Linked DNA regions of Homo sapiens. The protein of the gene in region 1 purifies or fractionates together with the protein of each later gene. This does not show direct contact. Each region holds a gene or a part of one and is shown on either strand. Other genes may lie near its edges. The genes, in order: REXO4, GNL2, RBM34 and BAZ1B.

The links.
Region 2: the proteins of REXO4 (region 1) and GNL2 purify together in Homo sapiens (affinity purification with mass spectrometry; 2 studies listed by BioGRID and IntAct, with this or other methods). This does not show direct contact.
Region 3: the proteins of REXO4 (region 1) and RBM34 purify together in Homo sapiens (co-immunoprecipitation; 3 studies listed by BioGRID and IntAct, with this or other methods). This does not show direct contact.
Region 4: the proteins of REXO4 (region 1) and BAZ1B purify together in Homo sapiens (affinity purification with mass spectrometry; 2 studies listed by BioGRID and IntAct, with this or other methods). This does not show direct contact.

The regions. Positions count from the first base shown.
Region 1 is NC_000009.12:133,407,985-133,415,010, forward strand, and holds part of REXO4 (RNA exonuclease 4), read right to left. Parts: coding exon 6,681-7,026; intron 6,661-6,680; exon of another isoform or gene 6,353-6,660; intron 4,938-6,352; coding exon 4,794-4,937; intron 4,509-4,793; coding exon 4,315-4,508; intron 3,090-4,314; coding exon 3,001-3,089; intron 859-3,000; coding exon 784-858; intron 1-783.
Region 2 is NC_000001.11:37,585,938-37,592,963, forward strand, and holds part of GNL2 (nucleolar GTP-binding protein 2), read right to left. Parts: intron 6,870-7,026; coding exon 6,775-6,869; intron 4,909-6,774; coding exon 4,769-4,908; intron 3,316-4,768; exon of another isoform or gene 3,023-3,315; intron 1,559-3,022; coding exon 1,374-1,558; intron 1-1,373. UniProt on the Homo sapiens protein: GTPase that associates with pre-60S ribosomal subunits in the nucleolus and is required for their nuclear export and maturation.
Region 3 is NC_000001.11:235,137,243-235,144,268, forward strand, and holds part of RBM34 (RNA-binding protein 34), read right to left. Parts: intron 933-7,026; coding exon 849-932; intron 699-848; coding exon 635-698; intron 1-634.
Region 4 is NC_000007.14:73,512,288-73,519,313, forward strand, and holds part of BAZ1B (tyrosine-protein kinase BAZ1B), read right to left. Parts: intron 1-7,026. UniProt on the Homo sapiens protein: Atypical tyrosine-protein kinase that plays a central role in chromatin remodeling and acts as a transcription regulator. Involved in DNA damage response by phosphorylating 'Tyr-142' of histone H2AX (H2AXY142ph).

The DNA.
Region 1 (7,026 bases):
CCTACAGTTTGCCTCTCAGTGGAGAGGTGCTCATGGCACTTAGGGTGGTAGCCACCAGCTGCCATTTATAGCATGATGGGCTGGTGATACACCCCTATCAGCCAATAAAAGGAGAGGGCCAGGGGAGGAGTCAGCATCCCCATCTCCCATCTTGAGGCCTCCCTGCTTATTTCAAGAGGGACAGCTCTGGCCAGGCATGGTGGTTCACACCTGTAATCTCAGCACTTAGGAGGCCAACGAGGGCAGATCACTTGAACCCAGGAGTTTGAGAATAGCCAGGGCAACACAGCAAGACCCTATCTCTAAAAAAATAAAAATAAAAAAATTAGCCAGGGGTGGTGGCATATGCCTGCAGTCCCAGCTACTTCAGAGGCTAAGGTGGAAGGATTGCCTGAGCCTGGGAGGTGGCAGTTACAGTGAGCCAAGATTATGCCATTGCACTCCAGCCTGGGTGACAGAGCAAGACCCTGTCTAAAAAAAAAAAAAAGGATGAAGAACGGCTCTGCCCTTGGCACCCTCTAGAGCAGATACGACAGTGGTACCAGGCCCTTAGTCAGTGACCCTGTTTCAGAGGTTAGAGTGGAAATAACTTGCCCTCCGTTGCAATCATTTTTAAGGTCAGCAATTAGCAGAACTCTATTTTTAAACATTCCTTCTAGTTTTAAAGGTTAAAAGAAAAAACAAAAACCCTTTAACCAACAAGTCAGCCACCAGTGACCAGAAACAATGAAGTGACCAGCAAAACAGAAATACAGTATCTTGAGTCACACTCATTCTAAGTACCTTTACTTGACTCTTGAAAGGTTTATATTTCTGTGTGTCCCGAATCTTCTTTTTTGGATGATCAAGAAATAGTACCTAGAAAAATAAAATATAATGATAATCATTTTCATTTTTGGTTTGTAGTAGCAGAACCCCCTCCCCCCGCCACCTTTTGCAAGTAACATCTTTGTGTGTGTGTGTGTGTGTGTGTGTGTGTGTGTGTGTGTGTGTGTGTGTGTGACGGAGTCTTGCTCTGTCACCCAGGCTGGAATGCAGTGGCTCAATCTTTGCTGACTGCAACCTCCGACCCCAGGTTTCAAGTGATTCTCCTGCCTCAGCCTCCCGAGTAGCTGGGATTACAAGTGCCCGCCACCATGCCTGGCTAATTTTTGTATTTTTTAGTAGAGACAGGGTTTTGCCATGTTGGCCAGGCTGGTCTCGAACTCCTGACCTCAGGTGATCCACCCGCCTCGGCCTCCCAAAGTGCTGGGATTACAGGTGTGAGCCAACGCGGCTGCCCTGCAAGTAACATCTTGTAGGGAATCCAAGTGTGTCACACACACATGGAAACAAGGCACTGATATGAATTTCAACTCCAGAAGGAAATTTATTGCACTGACTTAAGCTGATGCCCAACAGTCAGAGACAATAAAAACAAAATCTTGAAATCAAGGAAGTAGGAGAAAAACAGTCAACAGTTAACCAGCAACCAACTTATTCCTATATTATACTTGTATTTTGAGTTGGTTCTACACATCAGGAAGTTGCAAATAACACATTTTAACAGCTCATCTTGCAATCTTAGCATGCAATTTTTTGTTTTGTTTTGTTTTTTGATAGGATCTCACTCTGTCACCTGGGCTGCAGTGCTATAGGGTAATCATGGCTCACTGCAGCCTTAACCTCCTGGGCTCAACTGATCCTCCTACCCCAGTCTCCTGAGTAGCTGGGACAACAGGCACACGCCACCACACCTGGCTAATTTTAAAATTTTTTATAGAGATGGGGTCTCCCCTATGTTACTCAGGCTGGTCTCTAACTCCCGGCCTCAAGCAATCCTCCAGCCTCAGCCTCCCAAAAAGCTGCGATTACAGGCATAAGCCACTGTGTCTGGTCCTTAGCATCATCTTCAAGAAAGACTTGAACATGTGCTGCGCAAGGTGCCAGGGATGGAGTCAGAGTCAGGAGGGAAGGACGAGTCCCCACGGCAGCAGTCTCTGAGGGGGTACAGCAGGAGCACACAGAAGACCTTTCTGTGAGGACACTGCCCGGGGGGTTCTCACCTCAGTTTCACCCTCTGTAAACAAGCATGAACACCTCCAGCATCTTCAATGGATTCAAGGGATCTCTACAGTGCCGTCACGGGAGCACCATAGCAAAGGCTGCTGCCTGAACATTAGCATCTCTGTCACTTCCTTCTGAACGGCTTCAAGTTCCTCACCACACCCAAGTGCTTCAAGCCGGTGGGCAGAGGTGACAACTTAAGTGTCTCTCCCATCTAGCAGACTGGCCTCCCCGCTGTTCCCACTGTGTCCTTTAAACCAACATCCAGGCATTTGCCCATAAACTCAAAGTGACCCCCACCCTGTTCTCCTGTAAATACACACGTACTCGCTCTGCCTGACTCTTCATTCCTGCCTCGGGTGACCAGGAGATGGCAGGCTGCCCTCCCCACCCATGACGCCTTCCCTGCCCAGGGTCTGTATATGTCTTTGAACTTGTTTCCCACGGTGGTGGTGTCTGAATTTGCACTTTCCATCTGAAGAACCAGGGGCTGCCCCAGGCGGGATTTTCCTCGGGACGCCAGAAAGAAGGCAAAGGCAAGCTCCCAGGGCCAGGGTGATGGTTAGGCAAGCGTAACCTGAACATGGGCCACAGGGCATCTGCCAGGATAAACTTGTTTCCTGTGGAGGGACCCTGGTCACGGATGGGACAACTGGACATTAGGCCTTCCTCCAGGTAAAAGGGGTATCAGCACCTTCATTTCTCATTAGGGCGGGGTTGCCAGCTGCTCTGGTATGGGTACCCCAGTTTCGCTGGGGGCTCTCAAAACAAGAGCCTGGCATGGCTCCTAAAACACAGTAAGAACTCAGCACGCGGTATCTGATATTATTACCAAAGTATTCCCAACATAGAGCACAAACCCACACATTGTTAAAACTCCCCAACACAGCAAGGGCGTGAGTGTAACACCCACGGAGCAGGGGCAGGCTGAGTCCCCAGGAGAGAGCCCAGTACCTTTAGGTCATTATGCAGAGCGTGCCCCACTAGAATTCTGCCCTTCAGCATCTCTGCCACTTCCTTCTGAACAACTTCAAGCTCTTCTCCTGGAAAATCAACACAAAGAAGCGGTTTTTTGCAACACACACATCACCATCATTCTGTGAGGAGGCAGCCCCGCTCCTACCCCTGGTCAGACCTAAGACAAATGGTCAGGCCTGCAATGCCACTACGGAGGGTGACTCGAAGCCACCACATCCACCCACCCCCCTGGGAGAAGTGCCTTGTGGGCCCCTGGCAGGGGTGGCTGCGAGAACCACCTCTGAGGAGAGGAATAAAGTGCTCCACACAGTCTGCAAAGTCGGCTCATGGCTGGAGGAGAGCATATGTTGAGTGTAGGCACTGAGAAACTTTTAGAGCCGCCTGGCAGCGTGGTTCTGCCTATTCAACCTCATGATTTACTTGACAATTTCCCAAATGGAAATAAAAACAAAACTGCCCCCACAAAAATGGGTAGAGATGTGTTGCCCTAGGCCCTGGGCTCCAGAGGCAGCCTTGCCTGCTTCTGGGGACCACCCCACCACCAACCCCACTTGTACCCCCCGAACAGGGGTGATTAGACCAAGGGTGGCCCGAGCCAAGTGGGACCAGCTAATTTTTTAAAAATATTTTTTAGAAGGCCAGGTGCAGTGGGTCATGCCTGTAATTCCAGCACTTTGGGAGGCGGAGGCAGGCGGATCACCTGAGTTCGGGAGTTCAAGACCAGCCTGACCAATGTGGAGAAACCCTGTCTCTACTTAAAATACAAAATTAGTCGGGTGTGGTGGCATATGCCTGTAATCCCAGCTACTCGGGAGGCTGAGGCAGGAGAATCGCTTGAACCCAGGAGGCGGAGGTTGCAGTGAGCCCAGATTGTGCCATTGCACTTCAGCCTGGGCAACAAGAGCAAAACTCCATCTCAAAAAAAAATAATAATTTTTTTTAGAAATGAGGTCTCGCTATGTTGTCCAGGCTGGACTTGAACTCCTGGGTTCAAGCAATCCTCCCTCCTCAGCCTCCTGAGTAGCTGGGACTACAGGCATGAGCCACCGTGCCCAGCTACTGGCCTGGTCTTGAAGTCAGCGGACAGGAGGCAATGAAGTGCAAGGCATAAATGGGTGTAAAGCCGTCTAAGGATGCCTTTTGTATTTTAAAACCCATCGCCCCAAAAGGAGACAAGACGCATCAAAACCAGCTGCAGTGAGTGGTCTCAGACAGAAAAGGGAACAAAAGGGAGAAAACGAATCCAGTTACTACTTTCCCTTCTAAGTTCCTGAGCTGTGGATGACATACCCTGCTTGAGGTTCTCAGGCCGAATCCCACTGACCGCTGTCCTATAGTCCGTCACGGGCTCGGTTGGTTTGACGTACTTGTCATAAACGCACTTCCCATACTGGTTCACGATGGACACACGGGCGGCCATGCTCTCCTCCCCCTTAGGGCCCACGCCCACCATCTCACAGTCCAAGGCTAAGGCTCTTGTCAGGCTGAAGGGTAACCAAAGGCTGTAGTTTAATAAACACGGCAGGCCACAGGGCTCCAGGTCAGAGCCCCAGGGATCCATGGACTAAGTGTCAGCAGAGAAAAGCTCTCTGCCCCTCACTCATTTGCACCCACGTGACAAGCTCTGTGTGGTCCTGGTTCTTAGCAGGACCCTGGGAGGTGCTTGCCTCATTCACCTCAGGGAGAGGAAAGCATCCTCTTCCTTGAAGAAGCCCCGCCCTCCACGGCTAAGCATCCCCAGCAGACCCCACTCCCTGAGACCAGCGTACCCGCCGAAGGCCTGCTCTTTCACGAGGCTGAGGCTGACGCTGCCCTCGCTCTGACCCAACTGTTTCCTCGCTATCTTGGCCGCCTCTGGACCTATGGCAGCTTCGATATCCGCTGGGTCCACGTCGTCAAACCAGATGTCTTCCCTAAAAGGCAAAGATAACAGGCTGATCACCAGAAGACCCTAGTGCAACTGGTGGGGTGGGGCTGTGGGGCTGACTGTGCAGGTGAGTGGAGCGATGGCACAGCCTGCCTCTCCCACAGGCTGGCCCCAGACACCCCGACTGCTGGCCCTGCTGCTTCTGCTATTTTGATCATCTTGGCATTTTCCTTTTTTTTTTGAGATGGAGTCTCACTGGGTCACCCAACCTGGAGTGCAGTGGCATGATCTTGGCTCACTGCAACCTTTGCCTCCCAGGTTCAAGTGATTCTCTTGTCTCAGCCTCCCTAGTAGCTGGGATTTTACAGGCGCCCACTGCCACGCCTGGCTAATTTTTTGTATTTTCAGTAGATACGGGGTTTCGTCATGTTGGCCAGGCTGGTCTTGAACTCCTGACCTCAAGTGATCCACCTGCCTCGGCCTCCCAAAGAGCTGGGATTACAGGTGTGAGTCACAGCACCTGGCCTCATCTCTTTTCTTTTTAATTAGAAAATACACTCATTATTCAAGATTTAGGAACACAGACAAACACAAAGAATATAAAACAGAAACACATAACCCACCACCCAAGTGTAATGAGTGCTAACATTTTAATTATGAAGGTAACACGTTCATTATTGAACACTTAGGAAACAGACAGACAGAATGCCTGTAAGATGGAAACACAGAACCCCTTGCCCTCCGTACTAGGAAGCTCACACAGGCACGTAACACCTGCCTGGGGAATCTGTCTCTTGGGCTAAGGTTAAATGTCATTTCCTTAGAAAAGCCATTCCTGGCCCCACTGAATGGACACGTCCCTCTTGTTCCAGGCGCCCAATACCTTCTCCTCACTAGATTTATCCTGACCACACTTAATCAACAGCTGCAGTTTACAGTCTGTCTACTGCACTTGACAATAAGCCTCAAGAGGGAGGAGCAGGCCCACCTCACTGAACTCTATCCCAGACAGCCTGCCTAGCACAACACAGGGAGGCCCCCAAATGGCTCATTCCTCAGCCATCAGCGACTGTGTCCTGAACACCCAGGCAACATGAAGCCAGCTGTAACTTATGAACACGTCACCTCCAGCTGAACCATTCAGAGAAGGCCACTGACTCCCGGTCCACCCCACGTGGGTGGCCAGCACAGGGTTTATTCTTTTCACTTGTTTTTTTGAGAGTCTTGCTCCGTCACCCAGGCTGGAGGCAGTAGTGCAATCACAGCTCACTGCAGCCTCAACCTCCTGGGATCAAGTGATCCTCCCACCTTGGCCTCCCAAGGAGCTGGGATCACAGGCAACAGCCACCACACCTGGCTCCATCACAGGGTTGAAGTAATCACCAGGCACTGAGCCAAGAGTGCCAACCTCACAATCTCCTTATGATGCCACCATGACTACCACAAGGCACAGAGGACGTCAGAAACTTGCCCCAAACCACCCAACTGGCGAGAAGCAGGGACAGGCCTCATACTTGGGTCTTTCTGGCTTCAGCACGCTTTCCTTCCACACACGTGTACTGGCACCCACTAAATGCTGAGCTCTGCTCAACGCTCGGAAGAAGCAGGCCCTGCCTTATCATGCGCACACTCTAGGGGAAAACAAGTAACAGCGAGTAAACAAAGGAACAGACGACATCAGGGTAAAGTGATGGAGAGACTGCGGTGAGGCCACCAGCCTCCATAAGGAGACAGGCCTTGGTGAAGTCGCTGTGCCTCGGTTCTCAGTGGTGAGGTGGCCCATACTTACTCGGTGGGTGGGGCTGGGGCTGCCTCCTTAGCTTTCCGCTTCTTATGCTCGATGTCCCCTCGTTCTGGAACAATATCACCATTTGTCCTTTCCTTGGTTCCTTTCTTATTGTGCTCTGTTCCACTGGCCTTGGTGCGAGGTACTGGCGCCCTCCTGTCCATCTTGGAACCTGAAGGAACAGAGCCCCTGCTGGCCTCCTGGTCTTTTCCTGCCGGCATCTCCTCTCCCTTCACTTGAGGCGAGGTCTCTTTTTTGTTTTGCTGGATAATTTTGGGCTTCTTTTTGGAACCCATCTGAGAGATGACAAGAGGCTTTTCTGGGGCCTGAGATTTTTGTTTCAGCAGCC
Region 2 (7,026 bases), on another chromosome or scaffold:
TGCCTATCAAAAAGCATGCATACCTTTTGATATCATGCTTTGCTCCGTAAGAACTTATCTTTGGGGAATAATTAAGGATGAAAAAGATGCGGTCACATTGATGCTTCATCCTTGTGTTGTTCACCATAAGGAAAAACTATACACAGTATAAATGTCCAACAATGAGACTGGCCATAACAAACAAAATACTACTCTGACAATAAATATTATATTATTGTTGATTATGTACTGACATAGAAATATATTCCTAATAATCACAGCTTACTGCAGCCTCAAATTCCTGGGCTCCAGTGATCCTCCCACCTCAGCCTTCTGAGTAGCTGGGACTCTATGCCCAGCCAATTTTTTATTTTTTGTAGAGACAAGGTCTCACTATGTTGCCCAGGCTGGTCTCAAACTCCTGTGCTCAAGCGATCTTCCTGCCTCAGCCTCCCAAAAAACTAGTATTACAGGTAAGCCACTGCAGCCAGCCGGTGACTGATTCTCCTTTTGAGTATGGATCCCTACGAGAATATGATTAAAATTATAGATACTTCCTCTCCTCCTCCTCCTCCCCAAAACAAAAACAAAAAACACAAAACCCTACTGCCTTTATGTAAGCTCACAAATTTTCCACATTTTCTTCAAAGAGTCAAAGAAACCTTACAGGCCATCCATTAACTCAGAGACCTCCAGTTAAGGAAGCCCCGATATTCACAGAGGCATTAACAATGCTTAATATCAGCAATGGGATCATGAGTTATGTTCTTTTTGTTGTATTTTCCAACTTAACTATATTTCCTAATTTGTCTATGACTGGTGTATTACTATTATAAATGAAAAAATGTTATTTATTTTGGGGATGAGGAGAGACCTTTGTCAATCAAGCCACCTTAGACATCTTCAGTCTAGCCCCAATTTCACCAACGTCTCCAGTCTGAGGGAAGAAGATAACTCCATATATGAGTTAAAGCACTGAGCTTCACACAGGCAAAATAAGTTGAAAGAAAATGTTTTGTTGCAGAAGAGCAAATGATGAGATTTGCATGAACTTCAAAACTGTACCTCGACCGGGTGCAGTGGCTCACACCTGTAATCCTAGCATTTTGGGAGGCCAAGGAGTGTGGATTGCCTGAGCTCACGAGTTCAAGACTAGCCTGGGCAACACGGTGAAACCTTGTCTCTACTAAAATACAAAAAATTAGCCAGGCATGGAGGCATCCACCTGTAGTCCCAGCTACTCAAAAGGCTGAGGCAGGAGAATTGCTTGAACCTGGGAAGCGGAGGTTGCAGTGGGCCAAGATCGCACCACTGCATTCCAGCCTGGGCGACAAAGCAAGACTCCATCTCAAAAAAAAAAAAACAAAAACAAAGAAGCAAAAAAAAAAATGTACCTCACACCAGTGTCTTCAGTTACCAAATCACGATCCTTGCCCTGGTCATAGCTCTCAGTGGACATTTCAGCATTTTCGATAAGAGACTGCATATCACTTGCAAATAAGTTTGGTCGTTTCCTCTGTGACTTAGGGCCAAATGTAGTTTCAAAACTTTCAGTATCAAGAATGTGCACCTTCAAGTTCTGAAGAGAAAGGAGAATAACAGGTAAAACTAAGAAAAGCACTGAGAAAAAGCAAAAAGCTCAACACCCACCTAGGAAAGACTTTCTGATTTTATTTTTCCAAGGTTCAACCCATACCCAAATCTGTAAGACATGGTTTCAGTCTGGTTTCAAATCAGAATTACTTGTTGAAATGGCACAAACACTGGTTCCCTTATTCTGAAGTTCTGTAAGCTTCCTTGGAGAAATACAAAAGTAATACAAATAATCAAAGTAAATATGAATAGTTGTACAAAAACTTGCCAAAAACTCTGCTTTATTTCATTTATCATAAATTTCAGTCAAATGTAATTAAGGCTACAGTGGTGAAAATTAATCTTTTCCACCATTTTTTATAGCTTTCAAACAAGAGCATAAAATTCGCCAAATTCATAGATTTTGTCAAGGACAATCATACTCAAATTTGTGAGTTTTTTTTAAACCAACTGTAAATGCCAACTTTTTCTTGGAAGTTAATTTCTTTCATGGCTAAAAGGAATTGCTTGTTTTGTAAGATGCATTTTAGTTTCAGATAACATTTTCCCTAATTTAGGTAACGTTTTTATTAAATGCACATGGCAAGTCTTCGGATGAAAAACATCTAGCAAAAGTCCAAAATAATAGTTTAGATGTGATAAAAGGAACCTGATACTAACTAGAACTTGATGTGCCTGTAAAGGAGTTACAGGCATAGGAATTTCTGAAGCAAGATAAAAGAGTTGGGATCTATCACATAACGGAATGTTAACAGCCTGCAGACAATTAAAAAAAAAAAAATCACCCTTTTCCCCCTAGTACAAGCTCCTCCGTAAGCACCACTACCAAAAGCTGTGAGGATGATGCAGCAGCCCCTGTGGTTTCTGAACTTTAACAGATCCCCTCTTCCAACTTCTAAAGATCCTTAAACTATTATCATTTTCTCAGATGCCCTAACCCACAACTCAGTTTAGTTTTAGTCACTACGTTCCACTCGGGAGCATCTCCAAACAGAAGCAGCTCATTTTACATGGGAAATAGGGTCTAATGTCACTGGGTAAAATCAAGTGTGACCAAAATTATCCTTCAAAATCTCTTAACCTGTAAGTTACAGTACCCAAGGCTTTATGTCTATAAACCTACACATTAGTAAGTATAACACACATTAGTAAGTATAACACAGTAATATACAGTATATAAAGCACATATGCAAAGTTACAGTACTCTTACTGTATTGCTACAGAAATACAGTAGTTCTAAAACACATATAGATGAATATGCGTATCTGATCTAACTCCACTGTGCAAAATAATCTCAGAATTAGATTTTATAAGTAATAGATATTACACTAAAATAAAATAGTTAAGGTTTTTCAAGGCCAAAGCAGAAAACTCATCAATTACTCTGAGCAGCTTTCTGCATCAACAAAGAAGCTGACTGGTGCAACTGCAGACCCTTCATTCTACATACCAGATATTTAAACACTGAATTTTAGAAGCACTGACAACAAGTACAGGCAACGAAGCAATAAATCCATCACAGAACCTCTCTGTTCTTCTCATAAACAGGATTCAATAGTTGCTTAAAAGATGGCTTTAGGGAGAACAGACAAAGAGAACAAGGGAAATGAGCAACTTGTCTGTGGTTCATGAATTACACTCATGTGTTCCCCTGAAAGAAAACAGTCATTCTACTAATAGGTGCCATTCTTCTAGTGCATCATAAAACAAAACATAACTGACAAAACCTGAGGCAATAACCAGGCCTTGGTTTTTATTTTGTTCTGCAAGTAAACAGTTTTCTTTGAACTATTTTATTTTTATTTATTTATTTGAGACGGAGTCTTGCTCTGTCGCCTGGGCTGGCACGCAGTGGCGCAATCTCGGCTCACTGCAAGCTCTGCCTCCCGGGTTCATATCATTCTCCTGCCTCAGCCTCCTGAGTAGCTGGGACTACAGGTGCCCGCCACCACGCCCGGCTAATTTTTTTTTGTATTTTTAGTAGAGACGGGATTTCACGTGTTAGCCAGGATGGTCTCAATCTCCTGACCTTGTGATCCACCCGCCTTGGCTTCCCAAAGTGCTGGGATTCAGGCGTGAGCCACCGCGCCCAGCCTGAACTATTTAACCCACGTATGCATGTCAATGTTTTTCTCCCCTCCTCATACTGGAACTGAAGCTTACGTACTGGCTACATTTCTGGGAATTTATTATTCAATGCAAGTAAAAATAAGCAGACAAACAACAGATTCTTTCTTTGTTCTGTGTGAAACTCATTCCACTCAACCCAGATTGAATCCTTACTGCACTTCAAATTTTAGCAATTGACAACCAATGTGACCAGCACCCCTTCCTTCAGCTGAGAAAAAATCTCAAGGATCTCACAAAAGCTGAACGTACGCAACACCAAAGTTCTACCAACTCAATCCTAATTCTACGCTGTCCCAAAGTTTGATGGAATTACCACTTAAAACAAGTTTGCCTACCAAAATAAATAATATTACTAATAGCTGTTATCAATTTAGCTCTTATTAGGTGGTGTGCTATGTGCTCACTATGGGCCAAGTGCTTTACAGATGCTTCATCTGTAGCCAATAACCCAAGGAGGTCGGTTATCTATACTTTCTGTTTTTTTTAGACGGAGTTTCGCTCCTGTTGCCCAGGCTGGAGTGCAATGGCACGATCTTGGCTCACTGCAATCTCTGCCTCCCAGGTTCAAGCGATTCTCCTGCCTCAGCCTCTCCTGAGTAGCTGAGATTACAGGTATGCACCACCACGCCTGGCTAATTTTGTATTTTTAGTAGAGACAGGGTTTCTTCTTGTTGGTCAGGTTGGTCTCAAACTCCTGACCTCAGGTGATCCGCCTGCCTGAGCCTCCCAAGTGCTGGGATTACAGGCGTGAGCCACTGTGTCCGACCTATCTATACTTTCAAGGCAAAGAAGTTAAAGTTCATGGAGAAACCCAACTAAGGGCACAGGAAGGGATAGAGCAAGGATTAAAATTCAGGTCTCAACTCCAAAACCTGTGCTTTGATCCACTACACTACTGCACCTCATACTAAACATGAAAAGGTGAAAAGAGAGGTCTTAGAAAGTTCATCATTGCTACATTAAAGTCACTATTTTCTAAGGAAAAACAAAAGACAAATATGTTAGAGAGGGATCTGCATGGAGTTTGCCCAGGAAATTCCATCACCAGGGATATCCTACATCTTACATGAGGCCGGATTCGATCATGGAGAAGAGACATTGGTAACTTGCTTTGCTTCATGACAACTTTGTATGGATCCTTCATAACTGTATCCATTTCCTCTTGAAATTTTTGTAATGATGACTGCTTAATCACACGTGTGTTTCCTGTTTTACAAATAAAGAATGTTGCCACTTAGTTAATATTTGCGCATCCATCTTCCACTGACACGGTGAAAGGCAAGATTTTAAATTACCCTCACTTACCCAAGCACCTGATCCATCCATCCCTTGGAGCTGTTTTCAAACTTAAAAGAGGAAAAAACCAAAAAACTGCCTCTCCCGCACTTGCACACTATGAACTATTCCACAAATCCAGACCCACAAAGGGTTTCAATAGTTTTCCAAGTCCAGTTTCCTAACTAAATGAAACTGAGAAATAAATAGCGTGGAATGGAACTGAGATCTGTCAAATGTCCTACTACCTGCTAGATCTAGCAGAGAAACCTGGAGCCAATCACAGCTGATCAGTCAGTATAGACAGAGAATCTTGAAACACTGAAATTTGAGTCATAGTTAGCCACTTTTAGGGTTATGAGGATTCAAAGGGACTATTAACCAATGAGTCCATGCAAGGGAACAAGATAGAGCCCTGCACCACCACCTGGAAAACATCTTGTGAGGGAGACCCTGAAAAGCATTCAATTAAACAGCATGCTGCGGCATAAATGCAAAACAGCAAGGTGGTAATGACGGTAGCAAGTAATGCTTATATTATACTCACTATTTGCTAGGCGCTATTCTAAGCACTTTATATATATTTACTCTTTTTTTTTTTTTTTTTTTGAGATGGAGTCTCACTCTGTCACCCAGGCTGGAGTGCAGTGGCACAATCTCAGCTCACTGCAACCTCTGCCTCCTGGGCTCAAGGGATTCTCCTGCCCCAGCCTCCCAAGTAGCTGGGATTACAGGTGCCCACCACAACACCTGGCTAATTTTTGTATATTTAGTAGAGATGGGGGTTTCACTGTGTTGGCCAGGCTGGTCTCGAATGCCTGACCTCAAGTGATTCACCAGCCTTGGCCTCCCAAAGTGCTGGGATTACAGGCGTGAGCCACTGCGCCCTGCCTGTATTTACTCATTTGATTACCATGACAGTCTTATGAGATAGGTTTCATCTTATTCTCATGTTAGGGATGAGAAAACTGATGAACAGACAGACTTAATAACTTGCCCACTGGCACATAAATGACAGAACTAGAATTCAAACCCAGGCAGTCTAATCGAGTCACAGTACCCAGCAGCCATGCTAAATGCTTCTCTGCAGAGTTTTGACACCTTTCTGTGTTGCAGTTCTTAGGAAGTATCCCACTGAAAGTATAAGAGACTCAAAGATAGCTGCCACCTGCCCCCAAGGACAGAGGTCAAACACCAAGCAAACACTGGGGTCTGATCATCTAAAGTGCCCATACATTTACCAGTGGCTAAGGGCAAAGTTAAGAGCCCAGACTGAAATGAGACAGGGAGTTTTCCAAGGAAGAAGCTGTGATCACCCTGAGACTGAAGATACTCTATTCACTGTTGGACAGTTCAACAGTGAGACCCTTTAATTGTCACCCAAGTTCAAATAAAAACCCCATTAAGAAGTATTTCAGAGGAACTTCGGGCTAATGCACTTACCCTGAAGGATATATGCACAAAACCTACAAGGCCACCTCTCCAACAGTATCTCTTTAGGAAAGCAGAAAAGATTAAGATGAGCATTCTAAGGTCTGTGAATGCTAGTCATTAAGGATGGTCTTATCTGCTTAAGAGGGTTCAATTACAATTACTAATGGTGAGCGCTCTTCAAAAAGAAGTTATTTATTAAATTGACCACCACTACTTTTCCCAGTAATTCTTCTTATCCCTTTCTCAGATAATCCTTGCCGGTTTCACTCACCAAAAACTCCTGCTGTTTAGACATTTAAACATCCTAGCCGTTTCCACTCAGCATATATTTTGTAGAGCAAAGTAACAGGGGATAATACTCACCAAACCATTTAATATTTGGCTCTACTCTTGCCACTGTGCCAGAAGCCACCGTTGATTGATATTGCAGGGGTTTAATTATTTTACCACGACTGTTCCTAAATTGAGGAAAGAACAGATATTGGTTGACAACAGAAAAATGGCAACAGCGAAGTTTGATTTACAGAATATATTTTCCATCAAAAGGACTTCTTACTTTGGTTTTAAATGATCATGAAATACCAATTCCAGTAAACACAAAGTACTTCTACATTT
Region 3 (7,026 bases), on another chromosome or scaffold:
TCTCTGACAGAGTGTGTACTAAAAACTGTCTAATGAATAATTGAACTTTCTAGACCTCGGTCTATAATGTGTTAGACCAGATGATGTCTAATGTACCTTCTGACCTAATTATGCTTATTTGAAGAGGACTATGTTTTTGTTTCTTTTTAAGAAACAGGGTCGCCCTCTGTTGCCCAGGCTAGAATGCAGTGGCACGACTACAGCTCACTGCAGCCTCAAACTCCTGGGCTCAGGTGGTGCTCCCACCTCAGCCTTCTGAGTAGCTGGGACTGTCGGCATGCATCACACACTTGACTAATTTTTTTTTTTTTTTTTGTAAAGGCAGGGTCTTGCTACATTGCTCAGGCTGCTCTTAACTCCTGGGCTCAAGTGATCCTCCCGCCTTGGCCTCCCAAAATGTTAGGATTACAGGCATGAGCCATTGTGCCCAGCCAGGACTACGTTTTTGAAGGGAATGTTGACCTCGGTCCTTGTGCCTCTCTTGCCATCAACTCTGTAACCACAGAGGACATAGGCTGTTTCCTTCTGCGCTTCCCTCACATTGCTGATTCCAGTCCCCTTCCAGGAAAAGCCTGGAAGGAAACATTTCTCTCTACAAAGCTCTCGTTCTTTAAACAAATCAAGTACTACTTACAGATGAGGTCTCAGATGCGAGATCAACTCTAATACGAAATCCATCTGCAATCTGGGCCCCATTTCTGTATTATAAATACAAAGGGAAAATGGTTGTTAAAAATGAGCACTCGATTACTAAAACATCTATGCTAAAGTGAAACCAAAGAATAAAAAAAGTACTCATACATACTTATAGGACAATTATTCTGTTCAAACCTAAGGGATAAAATTACCTTTTCAATGCTTGCGTGGCAGCACTCTCCTCCTTAAACACAACATAGGCATTAATATTTTTCTGATCAGGATGAATTTTACGTCTACACCAAAAAAAAAAAAAGAAAGAAAGAAAAGAGAGACAAGGTAAATTTCTTAGCCTCAAAGTCACTAGAAAAAAATCTAGCTGTTTTCAACTCTTAACACACATGACAAGAATTCCTGGGTGGACATTTCATCTCTTTGAATAAATATTTAGTAATAACTCAAAAAATAACACACAACTTATAAAGATATTAGTGGAGACACAACCCATACTTTCTTAGGAATCATAACCATGAGAAAACAGATGAACCATGTATATGAATCCCTGAGAACCATACAAGAACTAAAAACTGACATCTTAGCTGCAGTCCGTATCTAACACACATATAAACAGTTGTGAAAGACGTGAGTTTTCCTCTTTACTGTGAAACACCCATATAGAAGAGTGCACAAACTACGTATAGCTGAGTGAATTAACAACAGCTCAACGTGCCTTGTAGCCCACTCAGAAGCCTCTCTGTGGCCCTTTCCCGTTGCAGCCCCTCCTTCCCTCCAAAGGCAACCACCATTCCCATTTTTATAGGAACTACTTCCCTGCACATCTTTGTGGTTTTATCAACCAAGTGTCTATTCTTAGACATCATACTTTGGTCTTGTCTATACTTTTGACCTGATATGTCTTTTGAATCTTGTTTAATTTACAGAGTTTTCTCTGTATCTCTTTATCTCTCACTATTTGGCCTGCAGAATTCCCCACAGCCTGGATTTTGTGACTGCAAGCTCATCAAGTAGTTTAACACAAACCTTTGTCCTCTATATTTCTTGTAAACTGGCAGCTGCATCAAAAGGATGGATCAGACTCAGACATGACCCCTTTGTCGCGACTGCTGGTGGGTGTTGTGTTCTTTCCAGGGAGTCATGTTATGACTGGTTTTTACCCTTTTGTCAATGACTGCAGCTGCTGCTACTAAATGCCTAAACTCATTAAGTCACTAGGTTTGCAAAATGGTGATATAATTTGGATGTGAGGAGTTAGCAAAAAGGACCTAGTAATGAACACAGATCTTTCCCTGAAGACATCAACCTACTGTTTTGAAGTAAGAAAAATGCTACTACACAAATGAGTATCATCAAGAAGGGAACTGGAAAATAGTGCCTGACATGACTGATGGCATTCTGTAATAATACACTATACTAATGCTTTTGTATTGATTAAACCAGCTGTGATTTACTGAATGCCTAATATATACCAGACACTCAGCTAGACATTTTATGTATTTCATTTAATCTCACATCTCCAACACGGTGTTTTTTTTCTGATTTTATGAATAAGGAAGCTGAGACTGGAAGAGGTACGTGACTGCGATGAAATGGCAACAAGTGGCTGGCCTAGGACTGAAACCAAGTCTAGCTGACTCTAGAGCCCTGCTCTTCACACAACACACAGCTGCCGACAACATCCAAATCCAACACATCCTAGTGCACCCCCAGGAACAAATGCTGGAGTTCCGCTTCCACCTAGAATGTAAAAAGCCAGAAAGTGCATCACTCCTGCTCTTACCAGTTAAGAAGAAACCAGATAACCCACAGCATCATAACTTTTGTTGCAGCCATCACAGAGCTGAAGTCTTGGGGAAAGCCAGCAGCTAGAAGCTAAGGACAGGCCTGCTTCCTCCAATGAGAGACAGAGGAAGCACTGGCTCTTCTGGCTCTACGATGGCCGAGCACAGGGGCAAAATGCTGGGCACCAGACAAGCAGGAAAGATTCCAGCCATGATCTCACTAAAACACTAGAGCTCAGCGTGGGCTGGGCCTGAAACAGAAGTCCTGGAAGCTGCCGAGGCAGGAGTGTGCGCCCATCCTCAGGATCTGCCCCACTGACCTCCACTCCCTGGGAAAGGCTGAGATCGCAGCTATGGGTGCTGCAGGCCTGGAGGACGGAATGGCCAAAGTGTGGGAAAGGCACAAAGCCCCACCTGGATTCTTCTTGAGAGGTGACAGCGTGCTGGCAGTCCTCAGAGCCCTCGCTTGCTCTCCGCACCTCCTCTGCCTGGGCTCCCACTTTGACGGCACTTGAGGAGCCCTTCAGCCCACCGCTGCGCTGTGGGAGCCCGTTTCTGGGCTGGCCAAGGCCGGAGCCGGCTCCCTCAGCTTGCAGGGAGGTGTGGAGGGAGAGGCGCGAGTGGGAACCAGGGCTGCGCGGCGCTTGCGGGCCAGCTGGAGTTCCAGGTGGGCGTGGGCTTGGCGGGCCCCGCACTCGGAGCAGCCGGCCGGCCCTGCAGGCCCTGCCGGCCCCGGGCAGTGAGGGGCTTAGCACCCGGGCCAGTGGCTGCGGAGGATGTACTGGGTCCCCCAGCAGTGCCAACCCACTGGCGCTACGCTCGATTTCTCACCGGGCCTTAGCTGCCTTCCCGCAGGGCAGGGTTCGGGACCTGCAGCCCGCTATGCCTGAGCCTCCCACCCCCTCCATGGGCTCCTGTGCGGCCCGAGCCTCCCCGAGGAGCGCCACCCCCTGCTCCACGACGCCCAGTCCCATCGACCACCAAAGGGCTGGGGAGTGCAGGCGCACGGCATGGGATTGGCAGGCAGCTCCACCTGCAGCCCCGGTGCAGGATCCACTGGGTGAAGCCAGCTGGGCTCCCGAGTCTGGTGGGGATGTGGACAACCTTTATGTCTAGCTCAGGGATTGTAAATACACCAATCAGCACCCTGTGTCTAGCTCAGGGTCTGTGAATGCACCAATCGACACTCTATATCTAGCTACTCTGGTGGGACCTTGGAGAACTTTTATGTCTAGCTCAGGGATTGTAAATACACCAATCAGCACTCTGTATCTAGCTCAAGGTTTGTAAACACACCAATCGGCACCCTGTGTTTAGCTCAAGGTTTGTGAGTGCACCAATCGACACTCAGTATCTAGCTGCTCTGGTGGGGCCTTGGACAACCTTTATGTCTAGCTCAGGGATTGTAAATACACCAATCGGCACTCTGTATCTAGCTCAAGGTTTGTAAACACACCAATCGGCACCCTGTGTTTAGCTCAAGGTTTGTGAGTGCACCAATCGACACTCTGTATCTAGCTGCTCTGGTGGGGCCTTGGACAACCTTTATGTCTAGCTCAGGGGTTGTAAATACACCAATCGGCACTCTGTATCTAGCTCAAGGTTTATAAACACACCAATCAGCACCCTGTGTTTAGCTCAGGGTTTGTGAGTGCACCAATCGATACTCTGTATCTAGCTGCTCTGGTGGGGCCTTGGAGAACCTTTGTGTCGATACTCTGTATCTAACTAATCTGATGGGGACATGGAGAACCTTTGTATCTAGCTCAGGGATTGTAAATGCACCAATCAGCACCCTGTCAAAACAGACCACTCGGCTCTACCAATCAGCAGGATGTGGGTGGGGCCAGATAAGAGAATAAAAGCAGGCTGCCCTAGCCAGCAGTGGCAAGCCACTCGGGTCCCCTTCCACACTGTGGAAGCTTTGTCCTTTCACTCTTTGCAATAAATCTTGCTACTGCTCACTCTTTGGGTCCACGCTGCTTTTATGAGCTGTAACACTCACCGCAAAGATCTGCAGCTTCACTCCTGAAGCCAGCGAGACCACGAGGCCACCGGGAGGAACGAACAACTCCAGACGCGCTGCCTTAAGAGCTGTAACACTCACTGCGAAGGTCTGCAGCTTTACTCCTGAGCCAGTGAGACCACGAACCCACCAGAAGGAAGAAACTCCGAACAAATCCGAACATCAGAAGGAACAGACTCCCGACGCACCACCTTAAGAGCTGTAACACTCACCGCGAGGGTCCGCGGCTTCATTCTTGAAGTCAGTGAGACCAAGAACCCACCAATTCCGGACACATTCTCTTGATGGAGGAGAAGGCTAAGCTGCTAGGGGAGGGATAGCAAACCCTGTCACTCCAGGGCACAGAGAAGACCCCTACAGCCGGAGGAAGGGAGGAGTCCAGCTACCGGGGGAGAGGTGGGAAACATCCTCTGCATAATCCCCACTAAAGGTACAAGGCATTTGGCACAGCTTGGCTGCCCCGGGAAAAAAGCCCTGATCAGGTGCACTCCTGAGACACGGAAACACTAAGACAAGACAGCAGAGACCCTGCTGCGCCCACTCCCACCAGACTACCAAGCCAACTGACAAGCAATAGCACTTTTTTTATTTTGAGACGGAGTTTCTCTCTTGCAGTCCAGGCTGGAGTGCAATGGCATGATCTCGGCTCACTGCAACCTCTAACTCCCATGTTCAAGTGATTCTCCTGCTTCAGCCTCCAGAATAGCTGGGATTACAGGCGCACGCCACCACTCCTGGCTAATTTTTGTATTTTTAGTAGAGACGGGGTTTCACCACGTTGGCCAGGCTGGTCTTAAAATCCTGACCTCAGGTGATCCGCCCACCTTGACCTCCCAAAGTAATGGATTATAGGCGTGAGCCACTGTGCCTGGCCAACAACAGCACTCTCTAAATGAGATCTTCAATAAAACTTAAAACTTTCAATCTTTAAGAGACACCTCTGGGCGTGTGTGGTGGCTCATGCTTGTAACCCTAGCACTTTGGGAGGCAGAGGTGGGTGGATCATCTGAGGTCAGGAGTTCGAAACCAGCCTGGCCAACATGGTGAAACCCCGTCTCTACTAAAAATACAAAAATGACCCGAGTGTGGTGGCGCACGCTTGTAATCCCAGCTACCTGAGAGGCTGAGGCAGGAGAATCAGTTGAACCCGGGAGGCGGAGGTTGCAGTGAGCTGGGATCGCACCACTGCACTCCAGCCTGGTGACAGAGCAAGGATCCATCTCAAAAAAAAAAAAAAAAAAAAAGACACCTCTAAAAAAGCCAGCCACAAACTGGAGCAAAATATCTGAAACACACATAGCAGGAAAAGGTGTTATATCTAGAATATATAAATAACTCCTTACAACCATATAAAAATAATTTAAAAGTCACTAAAAAATGGGCAAAATTTTTGTACCAACATTTCACCAAAGAATAGATACAAATAGTAAGCACATAAGATGCCTAACATTTTTAGTCACTGTGGTTGACAAACCTTCAGAATGTCTAAAATTAAATGACAATGCCAAGTGCTGGTGAGGATGTGAAGCAACTGACATTCTCATCGATAGCTGGTAGGAATGTAAAATGGTACAAACACTTTGGAAAACAATTTTGCAGCTTCTTAGAAAGTTACAATATACCGTAAGATCTGGCAATCCGACCAGGCAGTTTCTCAAAAGAAATGATCCGTACCCAAATTTTTTTTAGCAGTTTTATGTATAATAGCCAAAGGCTGAAATAACCTGAATGTTCATAAACTGGTGAATGGGGCCGGGTGCGATGGCTCACGCCTATAATCCCAGCACTTTGGCAGTCTGAGGCGGGCGGATCACCTGAGGTCAGGAGTTTTAGACCAGCCTGGCCAACATGGCAAAGCCCCATCTCTACTAAAAGTATGAAAAAATTAGCTGGGCATGGTGGTATGTGTCTGTAATCCCAGCTGCTTGGGAGGCTGAGGCATGAAAATCACTTGAACCCGGGAGGTAGAGGTTGCAATTAGCCGAGATGGTACCACTGCACTCCAGCCTGAGCGACAGAGCAAGACTCCATCACAATACAATACAGTACAATACAGTACAATACATCACAATAAATACAACACAACACAATAAACAGGTGAATGGATAAACAAATACTGTCATACAAGGGAATACTACTGAGCAATAAAAACGAATTAATTACCAATGCATTGCAATAATAAGAACAAATCTCAGACAGGCACGGTGGCTCAAGCCTGTAATTGCAACACTTTGGGAGGCAAAGGCAGGAGGGCTACTTGAGCTCAGGAGTTCAGGACCAGTCTGGGCATTAGTGACACCTTGGCTCTACTAAAAACTTAAAAATCAGCCGGGTGTGGTGGCGAGCACCTGTAGTCCCAGGTATTTAGGAGGCTGAGGCAGAAGGACTGCTTGAGCCCAGGTGATAAGGCTGCCGTGAGCCATTATCGTGCCACTGAACTCCAGCCTGGGCAACAGCAGAAGACACTGTTCCCCTCCACCAACCCTCCCCCACAAAAAAACAAACCTCAAAATCATTATGCTGAGCAAATTAGACAAGAGTATATCCTGTATGATGACTCTACTT
Region 4 (7,026 bases), on another chromosome or scaffold:
TTTTTTGTGTGATTTTTTTTTTTTTTAGCTGATCAACTGTTTTTAGTGTTAGTGTATTTTATGTGTGGCCCGAGACAATTCTTCTTCCAATATGGCCAAAAGATTGGCTACCCTGGTTTAAAAAATAAATTTCATAAAATACTTAGAAGTATTCCGGAAAGTACTTTTGATATAATATTTATCCAGTCTCTATGATGTCTCCAATAATACTGAGATTCAGAAGATCATTTACTAGCCGTTTAGACAGTCTTCGTGAGGGAGACGAGGGAAAGAAAAACATCAAGTTGGTAGTGTAAATATGGCAACTTTCCACACAAAACCAACTGGAATTCACCATCAGCCAGCCACTTCCAAATTCAAACGGCAAGTAACTAATTTACTTTTAAGCACAGCAACAGATGCTATGTAAGAAAATCAACTGACATAAGTAGAAAGTTAGTGAACAATACCTGTATATTCCAAGTGACACATTTTATAGTGGTTGAAATAAAAGTATTTAAACAGTTTCCTCTACAATACTATCTAACAAATAAACAAATATTCTAATTTTTGTTTTTTGGAAACAAGGCTGGCCTGTATCTCCTGAGCTCAAGAGATCCTCCTACCTTAGCCTCCTGAATAGCTGGGATTACAGACTTACACTGCAGCATCTAGCTCATTTTTATCTATTTATGTATTTATTTTTGACACAGGGTCTCACTCTGTCACCCAGGCTGAAGTGCAGTGGTGGGATCATGGCTCACTGTAGCCTTGACCTCCTGGGGTCAAGCAATCCTGGGCCTCAGCCTCCTGAGTAGCTAGGACTACAGGTGCACACCACCATGCCCACCTACATTTTTTATCTTTGCAGAGTCAGGGTCTCACCACATTGCCCAGGTTGGTCTTGAACTCCTGGGCTCAAACAGTCCTCCTGCCTCAATCTCCCAAAGTTATGGGATTACAGGTGTGAGCCACCACGCCCAGCCGCATGTTTAATAAATATAGATGCTTGGTTTTCCAAGGTTATGATCAGCAAAAACGCAAACAAGAACAAACCCACAGGTAATCCAAAATAGTAACTTTATGCAATAGTATAAGCACCTTTGCTCATTGTGGATCTTTCCCCAGATCTGCTAAAACTGAGTAATAAATCCATTTTCCTTACAGGGGTGGTGCTAATATCTAAGTGATTAAACAAAATATATAGAATGTTTGAGTAAAAACCTGAGTCAGACTTCCATATACAGATATGTAAATCCAATCACCGAAAAATTTTCAAACTTATACCCAGAGAAGAGCAACGGAACGGCTTCCAGAGGACATTATCCCAAGACGGATTTGTCTTATTTTTGTCTACTGAACTAGGGGAGTGGAAGGGATGGGTAGTAAAATAAGGACAGAGGAGGAATCAGTAAGTGGACTTATTTAAGCTTTCAAAAAGCTTGATAACATTCTAACACATTATTTAGCCATATTTAAGAAGCTCCAACAGGCATGGTAGCTTACACATGCAATCCCAGCATTTGGGAGGACAAAGTGGGGGGATCTTGAGCCCAGGGGTTCAAAACCAGCCTGAACATAGCGACTTTACAAAAAACTATTAAAAGAAAAAAAAAAACTCACTGTGTCATCAGAGAGAATGTAAGAGAAATACATTAACAAATATGTCTTAAAGAGAGAACAGTAAGTTTTTATTATTACAGGTTGAGGATCCCTTATCCAAAATGCTTAGAACCGGGAGTATTTTGGATTTTGAATTTCTTTCAGATTTTGGAGTATTTGCATTATACTTACTAGTTCAGCATCCCAAATCCAAATATCCAAAATGCTCCAATGAGCTCTTCCTTTGACGATCATGTTGGGGCTCAAAAACTTTCAGATTTTGGAGCATTTCTGATTTATGGATTTGGGATGTTCAACCTAGAGTTGTTACTTTAAAAAGCAGGGGCCAGAAAAAAACAAAACAAAAAAAAGTAGGGGCCGGCCAGGCACAGTGGCTCATGCCTATAATCCTGGCATTTTGGGAGGCCAAGGCAGGTGGATCACCTGAGGTCAGGAGTTCGAGACCAGCGTGGCCAACATGGTGAAACCCCCGTCTCTACTAAAAATACAAAAAATTAGCCAGGCGTGGTGGCGTGCGGCTGTAATCCCAGCTACTCGGGAGGCTGATGCAGGAGAACTGCTTGAACCTTGGAGACGGAGGTCGCAGTGAGCTGAGATCATGCCATTGCACTGTAGCCTGGGCAACAAGAGTGAAACTCAGTCTCAAAAAAAAAAAAAAAAACTGCATAGTGGCAGTTTATGAGGCCCAGGCACGAACATCGCTCAAGCCCAGGAGTTCAAGAGCAGCCTGGGCAACATAGCAAAACCCCATCTCTATTAAAAAAAAATTAGTTGAATGTGGTGGCACAGGCCTGTAGTTCCAGCTACTCAGGGATCTGAGGTGGGAGGATCACTTGAGCCCAGGAGGTGGAGGTTGCAGTGAGCTGTGATGGAGAGCAACAGAGGGAGACTGTCTAAAAAAAGAAGATTAGCCCGGGCATGGTGGGTCACGCCTGTAATCCCAGCACTTTGGGAGGCTGAAGTGGGTGGATCACGAGGTTAGGAGTTCAAGACCAGCCTGGCCAAGATGGTGAAACCCTGTCTCTACTAAAAAACTAGCCACGCATGGTGGCGGGCGCCTGTAATCCCAGCTACTCGGGAGGCTGAGGCAGAGAACTGCTTGAATGAGGAAGGCGGAGGTTGCAGTGAGCCAAGATCACACCGCTGTACTCCACCCTGGATGACAGAGTGAGAATCTGTCTCAAAAAAAAACAAAAAACCTCCAAACTCACACAATCACGACGAACTCATCACACCTTCTCTGCCAAGAATATACAGTCCTCTATTATTCGTCTAAATTCTAATCATCCTTTAGATCTCAAAAATAACTTTTCCCAGAAAACATTCATTGAACCTTCAAATATGATAGATTGTATTAGTTTCTAACTATTCACCTCCTTTCCATAAGAGGATTTTTACATCTCCACCCACTGCCATGTGGCTTGTCTACAAGGTCCCTGAAGAGGAATGTACCTCCCCTCTTCATTAACATCAAGCTTGACCCCGTGACTGGTTTCGACCAATAGATGTGAGCAGATGTAATATATGTCACTTCCCGGAAGAGGCTTAAAGTCATGATGTCTTCTAGCTCTTTCTTTGTGCCACTAGCAAACTAGCAAGCAAGACATGTCACACACAGGGTCTGCCCCTCCAGCCTTGTTCCTTTTTTTTTTTTTTTTTTTTTTTTGAAGCAGGGTCTTGCTCTGTCACCCAAGCTGGAGTGCAATAGCACCATCTCGCTTCACTGCAACCTTTGCCTCCTGGACTCAAGTGATCCTCCCACCTCAGCCTCCCAAGTAATTGGGACCACAGGCAAACGCCAGCATGTCCAGCTAATTTTTCTATTTTTTTTGTAGAGACAGGGTTTCATTCACTGTTGTCCAGGCTGACCTCAAATTCCTGGGCTCAAGCAATTCACCTGCCTCAGCCTCCCAAAGTGCTGGCATGAACAACCATACCAGGTGTCAGCCTTGGTCTTAAAATGAGAAAAATGTGGAAGGGTGTGGTGGCTCACGCCTGTAATCCCAGCACTTTGGGAGGCAGAGGGGAACGGATCACTTGAGGCCAGGTGTTCGAGACTAGCCTGGCCAACACGGTGAAACCCCGTCTCTACTTAAAAAGTGCAAAAAAGGAGCCAGGTGTGGTGCACGTGCCTGTAGTCCCAGCTACTCGGGAGGCTGAGGCAGGAGAATCACTTGAACCCAGGAGGTGGAGGTTGCAGTGAGCCGAGATGGCACCACTGTACTCCAGCCTGGGCTACAGAGCGAGACTCCACTCAAAAGCAAAGAGAAAAATGTGGTTTTCTTTTTTATTATTTATTTATGTTTTTGGAGATGGTGGTCTCACTACATTGCCTTGTCTGGTCTCAAGCTTCTGGGTTTAAGGAATCCTCCAGCTTTGGCCTCCTGAGTAGCTGGGACTACAGGCGCACACCACCACATCCAGCTGTTTTCTTTTTTCCCACCATTTTTTTCTTTTTTTAATATGAGAGTACTACAAAATTTTAAATTACATATGGCTTACATTATACTTTTGTTGGACAGCACTGAAACCTGAAGTATACATCTCAGAAAATGTCCTCTGACAGTATTAACTTAAAATTAATTGCCTAGTCAAACTGATTATAAAATCTGGGGCCAGGCGCGGTGGCTCACGTCTGTAATCCCAGCACTGTGGGAGGCCGAGGGGGTGGATCACTGAGGTCAGGAATTCGAGACCAGCCTAGCCAACATGGTGAAACTACTAAAAATACAAAAAATAGCCAGGCATGGTGGCAGGCGCCTGTAATCCCAGCTACTTGGGAGGCTGAGGCAGGAGAATTGCTCGAAGTTGGGAGGCGGAGGTTGCAGTGAGCCAAGATTGCACCATTGCACTCCAGCCTGGGCGACAGACTGTGACTGTCTCAAAAAAAAAAAAAAAAAAAAAAAAAAACAACTGTAAAAGAATTTCCTACAACCCCTAACAACGGCTATTTTAAGTTTGTGTAACTGTTCTGGTAACTGTTCTGGTAATTATATTAAGAGAAAGCAAGGCTGGGCATGGTGGCTCACGCCTGTAATCCCAGCACTTTGGGAGGCTGAGGCCGGTGGATCAACTTGAGGTCAGGAGTTCGAGACCAGCCTGGCCAACGTGGTAAAACCCCATCTCTACTAAAAATACAAAAAATTAGCCAGGCGTGGTGGTGGGTGCCTGTAATCCCAGTTGCTTGGGAGTCTGAGGCAGGAGAATTGCTTGAACCCAGGAGGCGGAGGTTGTAGTGAACCAAGATCGCACCACTGCACTCCAGTCTGGGCGACACAGCAATAACCCAGCTCAAAAACAAAAAAAAAAGAGAGAAAGTAAGGCCACACACAGTGGCTCATACCTGTAATTCCAGCACTTTGGGAGGCTGAAGCGGGAGGATCACTTGAGGCTAGAAATCCAAGACCAGCCGGGGCAACTTTGCAAGACCTCGTCTCGTCTCTACAAAACATACAAAAATTAGGCGTGGTGGTGTGCACCTATGGTTATAGCTACTCAGCAGGCTGAGTGGGAAGAATCACTTGAGCCTGGGAAGTTGGAGGCTGCAGTAAGCCATGATCACACATCACTGCACTCCAGCCTGGGCAACAGAGTGAGACCCTGTCTCAATAAATAAATGAATAAGAAAAAAAGGGAAAGCAAGAAAAAAAATGAAAATGAAAAGGCAAAAAGGCCCATCAGAAGGATATTGAGTCAGCTGCCTCTAAATCCTATTTCAGATTTTAGGTTACCAAAATAAGTCACTCACTCTCAAATAACCTCTCAGAGCAAATGCCAATTGAGGTTTTTATGTTCCAGCAACTGCTGCACATATAATTGCAGACAAAATGTCAAAGCAATTCTCCAAAGGTTGTGTAAGCTATAAAAGATAAGATATTTTCGAATCCTAGACTATCTCATTATGTATCTACTTTGCCATCAGCTACCTCCTTATCACAATATGCTGCTGCTTTGTTCTCTTCAGTCTTGCAGGGATTGTTTCTTTCAATTAAGTACTTGATATCCTGAAAAGATGTGGCCCAGATAAGTATAGAGTCAAACAAGCATAACTGTAACTAACCTAAGTGCTCTAAGTCAGAAGATGGCAAAGAGTGAGCCAACTCAAGATTTGCTTTTTACTCGATATTCTCTCTTACTCGATTTTTTCTCTTAAAGACTCCAGACTGTCTTTAAGTTAAAAACAAGTCTAATATGGCATAACGTATTACTTTAAAGAATGTATAAAAATCAGGCTGGGCGCAGTGGCTCACGTCTGTAATCCCAGAACTATGGGAGGCCGAGGCGGGCGGATCATAAGGTCAGGAGATCAAGACAATCCTGGCTAACACAATGAAACCCCATCTCTACTAAAAATACCAAAAAAAAAAAAAAAAATTAGCCAGGCGTGGTGGCGGGCGCCTGTAGTCCCAGCTACTCAGGAGGCTGAGGCAGGAAAATGGCGTGAACCCGGGAGGCGGAGCTTGCAGTGAGCCTAGATCGCGCCACTGCACTCCAGCCTGGGCGACAGAGCGAGACTCCGTCTCAAAAAATAAATAAATAAATAAATAAAAATAAAAATAAAAATAAAAATCAACGTAAGAGCTCAGTATTCCAAATGTCCAGTAAAACTCTATCTTACAACTACAACTTAACTCCATCTATAGCTACTCAACTCTTAACACATGCTCTAAGGCAGACGCAGTAGTGCGTGCCTGTAGTCCCAGCTACTCTGGAGGCTGAGGCAGGAGGATCTCTTGAGTCCGGTTCAAGGCTTCCCTGTGCTACCACCTCGTCTGTGAACAGCTGCTGCACTCCAGCCTGGGCAACACAGCAAGATTCCATCTCTTAAAACAAAACAAAAACATGCTCTAGTCACACTTGTGTAGAGCCAGATTAACAGTATGAATAAGCCCCTCATTATCATACCCTCAATAAATTCTCACATAATGATGCTACAAAGGTCGTGAACTAGTTATTTCTAAGCTTTAGAAACTATGACAGTTGAAGTAACACAACAAAAATACTCATCTACAACACGCTGCTTGTAGCTCCAATTCCTGCCTAAAACCTATCTTGACTTAAATACAGTCAGTGTCACATCAAGAACTGATTCTGATAAAGTTAGTGTTTTCCAAGATCTAGTGTCCTGCCTGTGGGAATACCTTAGGAAGTAATGTACCATACAAAGCTACAGTACAATCAACATAATCACCAATATTTAACACCTAGTCATTAAATGTGTGCATTACTCACAACTTCCACTAAGTTTAATGAAGATTCACAATATACTCCAAGAACATACCAACATACAGCTTTAAGTCAGTAAAATATCACACAAAGTTCTGTGATACATGCAATCAAAAGGTAGGTATTAAAAGAAAATTAAAATATCAAGTCCCATTAAAAACATAATTGTAAATATAAGTTGAGAACTGGGAATACTAC